Homo sapiens: one gene and its partner. The protein of the gene in region 2 interacts with the protein of the main gene of each other region in a pairwise test. Each region holds a gene or a part of one and is shown on either strand. Other genes may lie near its edges.

The links. Proteins that work in one complex are often made in the same cells at the same time.
Region 1: the proteins of FAR2 (region 2) and PEX11G come close enough for resonance energy transfer, tested with the Homo sapiens proteins (one large-scale study listed by BioGRID).

What each region holds. Positions count from the first base shown.
Region 1 is NC_000019.10:7,476,375-7,479,035, forward strand, and holds the end of PEX11G (peroxisomal membrane protein 11C), read right to left. Parts: exon of another isoform or gene 2,003-2,661; coding exon 1,940-2,002; exon of another isoform or gene 1,063-1,939; coding exon 828-1,062; 3' UTR 501-827; downstream 1-500. UniProt on the Homo sapiens protein: Promotes membrane protrusion and elongation on the peroxisomal surface.
Region 2 is NC_000012.12:29,154,547-29,160,056, reverse strand, and holds part of FAR2 (fatty acyl-CoA reductase 2), read right to left. Parts: intron 1-5,510. UniProt on the Homo sapiens protein: Catalyzes the reduction of saturated but not unsaturated C16 or C18 fatty acyl-CoA to fatty alcohols (FAls). A lower activity can be observed with shorter fatty acyl-CoA substrates.

The DNA.
Region 1 (2,661 bases), on a different chromosome or scaffold from region 2:
GTTGTGTGTTCCTGGGCCAGGCTGTGCAACAATGTCTGCCAGAGGCCACATGTGCACAGACTCTGAAGGGTTGTTCTCAGCCAGCAGACTAAGCAGTGCCCTCATCCCATCCCACCACACATTGGCTGAGGTGGGAGCCCCAAGTATCTTCAGCGATGCCAGTGTGTGTTGCCCAGTCTCAGCCTGGAGCCCTTAAAATGCTCACAGTGGCCCTGCGTCGGCAGCACAGTGGCATGAGGCCACGCCCTCGGGTGGCCTGATGAGAGGTGGCGCCTCTGGCCTGTGTGCCCAGGACTCTGGGGAGTAGAGAACAGCCCTCAATGGCTGGAGGCCACTTGGGGTCCGTGGGCAACGCTTGCTCAAAGATGGAGAGGACCCACCGGGCTGAGGGCATTCCTGAAGGTGGGCTGGGGTAGTGTGGTTTCCAACTTTGGGTCCGTCCTGTGGAGGGTAAGGGGCCAGGAGCCAGCAGTGTAATAACCTTCACCCCTGAGCCAGGCGCCAGCACCACAATGTTTAATTGATTCCCGTTCCAGCTTTCTCAAGGCACGACAGGCCCCCTCTTCCTCATCTTGATTTGGATACAAGACGCCAGCTGGCAGGCAGGAGGTGCTGCTGAAGCCCTGCACGGCCCCTGAAAACTGTCACGGCTCAGGAGCTCCAGGCTGAGGCCTGGGGGACCTCGCATCAGTCCCTCCACCCACCCTGCCCATGGGTTTCACCACAGGCAGCTCCATGAGAGCCCCGGCCCCTGCCCTGGCGGCTTCTGCTTTGCGGGAAGGGCCCTCCGTGGGCTCTGGCTGTGTCCCTGTGCTCTTCCGGCAGTGTCAGGGGGTAGTGGCCTCGGCCTGGCCGCCGGCCCGGGCCGCCTGGTACATGCTGAGGATTGAGGAGATGGTGCCCATGAGGCCCACTAGCCACGGCGGGAAGCGGCCGGCCCACAGCACGCCCCGGGGCAGCCAGTGCACGGCGTTGGCCAGGTCGGCCAGGTTGCTGAGAAGTGACAGCGCCTCCGACTGCATCTGCGCCTCCATGGCCCTCCGCTTGCCCCGGGGCAGCGGGCTGTGGGGCAGAGAGGGGCCGCTTACACTCACGCTCACACCTGCCTGCCCTTCCCAAGCCCCTGAATGCCCTGTGTGGCCTGGCAGCCCTGAGCCCCTGCCTGTGAGTGGGAGGAGCTGGCAGGACTGAGGTGGCCTCCCTGACCATCCACAGAGACTGAGTCCCCATCACCCCCCCGACCCAAGCACGAACAGGGCAGGAACCCGGGTCCAAGTCCTCAAATCCACACCTCACTCCTCGTCCTGAACACCCAGAGATGGGGATTCCTTGTGAAAAACAGAAAGCACAAATGCACTTTGGGAGGTGTGGAGGGAAGGGGGAACCCCCAGGAGCGTGGCCTGTGCCTGCCCGGCCTTTCTTTATCAGGATGACACAGTGACGATAAGCCTGGCCAATATGGCGAGACCCCATCTCCACCAAAAAATAAAAAACAAAATTAGCCAGGCGTGCTGGCCCGTGCCTGTAGTCCCAGCTACTCGGGAAGCTGAAACAGGAGGATCAGTTGAGCCCAGGAGGCAGAGGCTGCAGTGAGCCAAGATGGCACCACTGTGCTCCAGCCTGGGCAACAGAGCAAGACCCTGTCTCAAAAAACAAAAAGAAAAAGCAACAGTAACAATGGCCATGGCCTTCGGGAAATTGATCATTCTCTCCTGCTGGGGGCGCAGCCATGAAGGCTCAGCCCTGGAGTCCCCGCTCAAGCAAGCCTCAGTTTCTCCATCTGTAAAAGGTACCGCCACCCACCAGAGGCTGTGATGACTCCCCCATGACCTGAGCACAACAGTCCCCAGCATGGGCCTGCACAGGGGTGGCTGCGAGCCGGGATCCCACGCCTGCTGGAGGGAGTGGGCCTCCCTGCTGGGTGATCACGGGCTCCTACCTGGTGAAGGGCGCCGTGGGGCTCCGCAGCCTCTGTCTCAGTTTCAGCAGCATCCACAGGGACCTGCAGCACCAGAGCCCGAGGGAGGATGCCCCGGCGGGGAGCAGGAGGGTTAGCTCCACAACGCTGGCCCCGGACATACAGTCTGGGACAGGTGCTGCATCTCGGATAAACGGCCTGCCCTCTCCCTGCCCCCACAGTCCCACACCCTCCTGGCTGTGCCTCATGCTCCCGGGGACTCATCTCTAACACGGCCCCGTCCCACCCGGGACATCGTCCTGCACTTCTGACGTGGCCATCCAGGGCCTGGCCCAGCCTCTGCAAACCACTGGCAAGTGCTCAAAGGAACATCAAGCCCCGTGAGGTGTTCACAGCCTGGCAGGGAGTCCTACACAGAAAAGGATGCCAAGAGGCCCGCAGTTGGACAGGCGTGGGGACGCCGTTTCCCCTCCGGGCCTCAGCTGCCTTGTCTGCTCTGTGTGGAAAGGTCCAAATCAGTGCCATGCCAGCACCCCCTGCACACACACCCCGGACATTGGCTGGACCTGTCTGGATGATCCCCTGGGCCCCCAGGGCTGGCATCTGCAGGCTGAGGAAGGGGCTACCCAGTGGGCAGCCTCTGTGCTCCCAGCAGGCTCTGCAGCCGTGCATGGCACCCACCCGGGCCAGTCCACCAGGCACCTGCACTCTCCAGCCTCGGCCGTGGGGTGTGCCGGGTTGTG
Region 2 (5,510 bases):
AATGCCTGTACTCATCTAGTTCAGGAGAATAAGTAAGGACTTATAGGGCAGATGGTTGGTTTTTGATCTTGCCTCCAGAAATAAAGACAGATAGCTGAAGATAATGGGGTTTTTCCACTTATCTTAGAGGAAGTAAGCAACTAACTACTGATCCTATGCCAAGATTCAACGGTATCATTCTGGAAACTTCATAACTTCTTCACATTGGTTATTTTTGCTCTTCCCCTCTCACTTTCCCCACAAGGATTAGCACTTAAGTACTTAAAACACCAAGAGTTTGTGTCTATCTTTAGATACAGAAGGAAAGTAAAGCTAGAGGATGCAAGCTACGTCTCAGCCAGTTTGAGGAAAGAGAGGACCTGGTGACACAGTGAGTAAACGAGAGGAGAGACACACAAGCTAATAACCCCCAAGCCTTGCGGTGGTGAATCAAGAACATTGTTTTCTGGGGAAGAATTTTCATGATCTTCCCTATGGAATTTTTCATAATTCATTTCAACTCTATTTCCCATCATACCCTCTTTTTTTTTTTTTTCCGAGACAGAGTCTCACACACAGTGGCGCAATCTTGGCTCATTGTAAGCTCTGCCTCCTGGATTCACACCATTCTCCTGCCTCAGCCTCCCGAGTAGCTGGGACTACAGGCACCTGCCAACATGCCCAGCTAATTTTTTGTATTTTTCGTAGAGATGGGGTTTCACCATGTTAGCCTGGATGGTCTCGATCTCCTGACCTCATGATCCGCCCGCCTTGGCCTCCCAAAGTGCTAGGATTACAGGCATGAGCCACCGTGCCCGGCCTCCCATCTTACTCTTATTGGTGTTAAGTGCTTGGTGCTATGGGAAGTCAAGTCATTGACTGGGGCTAGTTAGAAGAGGGAAGAAGGGAAAATAAAGATATATGAGCATTGTATATTTACACATTGGGTATCATTACTGAAAAATTGCACAAACTCCAAGTTGCAACCGGCCAAATATTGCTCAAAGAGTAGGGAGTACTAAAATTTGAGGGCTGGTACTATAACTTGTTTTGCATTCTATTTGCAAAGCTAAACACCCTGCCTGGCACATAGTAGGTACTCAGTAAATAGTACAAATGAATAAATGAATGAATGGAATGGAATTGTCATGGGATTTGCAGTCATAAGATGTGGATACTAGCCTTGATGCACCCACTAACTAGATGTGTGACAAGCCACTTTACGTCTTCAGGACTGGCTTTTATTTTCTTTAAGAGAATTGAACCAAATATAGATATGGTACTTGAACATTCTACAATTTCCAGTGTGAATATACTTAGTTAAGACAAAGCTATTTGCACTCACTACTATGTACTGTAGACAAGATGGTGTGATATGTGCCAACATATAGTATGTCTAGGAGTTCAAGGAAGTCTAATTTGGGAAAAGTTTGTTCTGTCCTAAAAGAAACTGAGACCTAAATTTATCTAAGTGTCATCCTGTGATCAGCAATGCATTCAGCGGCACTTGCATAACCATTGCCTCCGGCAGGACTGCACCAAAATAGCAGAAGGAAAAGAAGGAAGAGGCAATGTCACACTTCTGCTAAGAAGAGAGTTATGGCAAGTACAAGTTGCTGAGAAAGAAGCAAACTGCTCATTTGGATGAAGGAAATTAATTCTTTGAAGCCATCAAAGATTCCTGCAGCTTTGAGAATAGTTTGGTAAGTGGATCTCAATCCCCAGAAAACTCTTTGGTAAAAGAACAAGTGCCCATCTTTTAGATCATGTGCTTAGCTTCAGGGCAGATATGTCCTGAAGGTCTTGTGTAAACAAAACACAAGTGAAATAATATTCAATTCAAAATGAGACAATAGTTACAGTGAAATAGAGAAATACAAAGTTGGTTTTTTTACTTATTATTATTTACTGACATCAAGTTGGTTTCATTAATATTTACTTAATATCTATCAGAAACAAATATTATTTTAAGTAAACAGTTTCTCTTAAGTTTTAGGCAAATTGCTCTATGATTTCACTAACTGAATACCATCCATCTTTAAGATGCTAAAACTATGTTACTTCTATCCATACAACTTTCAGTATTAAATATCCTTTATTGAAAATAATAAGCAAAAATCTTTAATACATGCACAAACACTGACTTGTTACAGTTTCTTTTACTCAGTTTATCCATTTCTTCTGGGCAGATTCTTTTGGTTTCTTGACAATACTGTGCACTGGTGAATCTAACTCTGCTGGAAGTGCTTAAGTGGTTTCAAATATGTTGGGACCAGACACATAACTTAATTGCCATCCTAATTTCCAAGGATCTTGCTTTCAAGGATACCTGGGATTTTTGCTCACTTCTGTGGAATGTGCCCTCACAATGACCTGTGATAAATAGTGCACGATTTTTAAAAAATGATCTAAAATGTGGGGTGTTTTTATAACTATTTCTCATTTCTTGGCTCAGGAAATATTATTCTTGCCTCCTATGGTCATCCTGTTATTCATCAGCAGATGCTACTGATCCAACAGCTTCCCAGCTAAGATGGAAGGATGAGTAAGTGGTTGGAGAAGCCATATTTTTGTCTTTTCTACACAAATTCACAGGGAGGAGTGTTTGCTTTCTCTTCCTCCCTTCAGGTGTGGGCTTCAATGTTTTGGGGCTGTCTCTGGAGAAGCCTGGGAAGTTAAAATGCCTTAAAAGCAAGATGTCCAAAAGCCATAGGGGATACATATTATCAACTGCAGGATGAAAAATGCTTTTGCAAACCTGCAGCAGTTAAGGATACAAAATGATCTAGGACTTCGAAATAATACAGCTAAATCAACAAGCAAATGTTATTCTTAGTGTCTGGCAATTACAGTAAGGCTTTTTTTTCATTGTTTAACCACATTGTTTAATCAATTTTCATTGTTTAATTGCATTGTTTAATCACATTGATACATATATATATATATATATATATATATATATATATATATAAAATGTTCTTTGCTTTAATACTGGTGTTGATTAAAGTGGGAAAATGTCTATTGAATGAAGATGTCACCTGAAACCAGTCCTCTTTATAAAGTTAGATATCTCACAGAAATCTTCCAATCAATATGGCTGGCAATGAGACCCATAATCCAAACTCTGTGATCACACAGCACACCCTCGTCTGAAAATATTTTATGACAGCAGTAACAGAGCCAAGCACCAGGTCTCGAAGGTCTTATTTTCTGACTCTACGTTCCATGGAAATACCTGGACTAGCTATTCCAAAATCTCCCCCTATGCTGTGGCAGCTACTTATGAAAGCCCTGGGGATCCTCACGCCAAAGATTCTGATTCAGTAGGTTTAAGGTGGGGACAGAGAAATTTGTATTTCTGTCACCCAAAATTGAGGCTGTCACCCCTAAACTACCACTATTCATATAAAAGTGTGCATTAATAATAAAAAAAGATTGGCTTCATTATTGAAATAAAAATCAGAGGCGACTACTCATAGGAAATCCAATCTGCTCAGAGGTAATAAAATAAAACAGTTAAGTTATATTAGATTTAATTTCCCCCTTACCTCTGGATGCCGTAGTTTTATTTATCTGAGTGCCTATCCTGTATATATGAGTTCAAATGTTTGAATAAAATTTACAAGTGATCACCTTTGCGACTGTCTTCTGCTCTTTACATGGGCATGTAGCGTTAGCAACACCAGCCATCAACAAAAACTGGCATTGTCACGACTCCAATGCCAAAAATAGTTTGTTTCATTTTTAAAATTAATATTATTTTAAATTTACAAGTTATAATTTCATACATTCAGAGGATACAGTAGCCATCACTTATCTTTTTTTTGGTGAGACATTTGAAATTTACTTAGTTATTTTTAAATGTACATTATCATTGACTATAGTCATTCCGCTGTGCAGTAGATCTCAAAACGAATGCCTCCTGCCTAACTGAAAATTTGAACCCTTTGACCAGTAACTTCCCCCCACCTCCCCACACCCTGCACCCCTACCACTTTTTGCCTTCAACCTCTAGTAACCACCATTCTTCTCTCTACTTTTATTTATGAGTTCAATATGTTTAGATTCCACCTAAAAATGAGATGATGCAGTATTTCTCTTTCTGTGCCTGAATGCCAATAATGTTTGAGGACCTACTAGGAAGTCAATTTAACTATTTTATTTCTATCCCCTCATAAATTAAATAAATGAAAAACAAAACAATTAAGATTACCTATGGCAGGTGAGTTTCATAGCCTTAGAGCAGGGGTCAACAAACATTTTCTGTAAAGGACCACAAGGTAAATATATTAGGATTTAAAGGTCATAATAATTGATTGGTTAGGGCACTAAAGCAGTCATAGCCAATAGGGATGACTAGACGAATGATACAAGCTGTTTTCTGATAAAACTTTATTTATAGACACTGAAGGTTAAATTTCATATACGTTAAATTTCCTATAATTTTTCCCATGTCACAGAATATTATTCTTTTGATTTTTTCTAAGTTTTAAAAATATAAGAACCATTCTTAGTTCAAAGAATAAACAAAAAGGCAGGGGCCAGATTTCAGCCTTGGGCCAAAGCTGCTGACCCCTGGGCTGGAACACAGAGCTGATGAAGCCAAGGAAGAATTCTACAGCTGTGTGAACCTGTTTCTTCCATTATGCTCTGCTGCACTGTTCTTTGGCCATAAGTTGCATTTCTGCTTCCAGCCTACCACCATGCAAATGCATGGGGATCCAGGAAGTGGATATATGAGACTCAAAAACCAATGTTCCTACAGATGCCCTATGTAGTCACACTGTATTGCCCTGCAGGGGATGGCTTACAAAGATCAGATAAGGCCCAGGCCTACCACGGGACCTAAGAGGCCCTGGGGAGTCTTCCCCATTGTTTATGCCTCAGGTCACATGTATGAAACAGAGACTTCACAAAATGTATCTTGATGAGGTCCTGCAGAACCTTGCCAAAGAAGTAGAAATGAAAAACAATTTTGCTTTTAATCAGACTGCAGATCCTGTTTCTGAATATCATCCACAGAGCAGGGTTGTTTTCATCATCAACTTAATGCCTATTAACAGAGTCAATTCCAGTCTCCCGCTTTCCACCAACTAAGTAGGATTAAAGAGATGAGAGAAGCTTATGGTTAATAGAGAACTGTAGATGTTAAAAGGTTTAATCTATTAATATAGGACAGCATTTCCCAAAGCGTGTTATGCTGAATGCTGGCTCTCTTAGATGTTCTGCTGGAAAAGCATTTCAACGTCAAGTTTAGGAAATGTAGCATAAAAGATCTCTCTTTTCTTGATTATTAACATGCATTAGGACATGCATGCTCTGAGGATTCCTGCAATAAAACTGGTTAAGTAGGGGCCCAGTGCGGTGGCTCACGCCTGTAATCCCAGCACTTTGAGGCAGGCGGATCACAAGGTCAGGAGATCGAGACCATCCTGGCTAACACGGTGAAACCCCGTCTCTACTAAAAATACAAAAATTAGCCAGGCGTGGTGGTGGGCGCCTATAGTCCCAGCTACTCAGGAGGCTGAGGC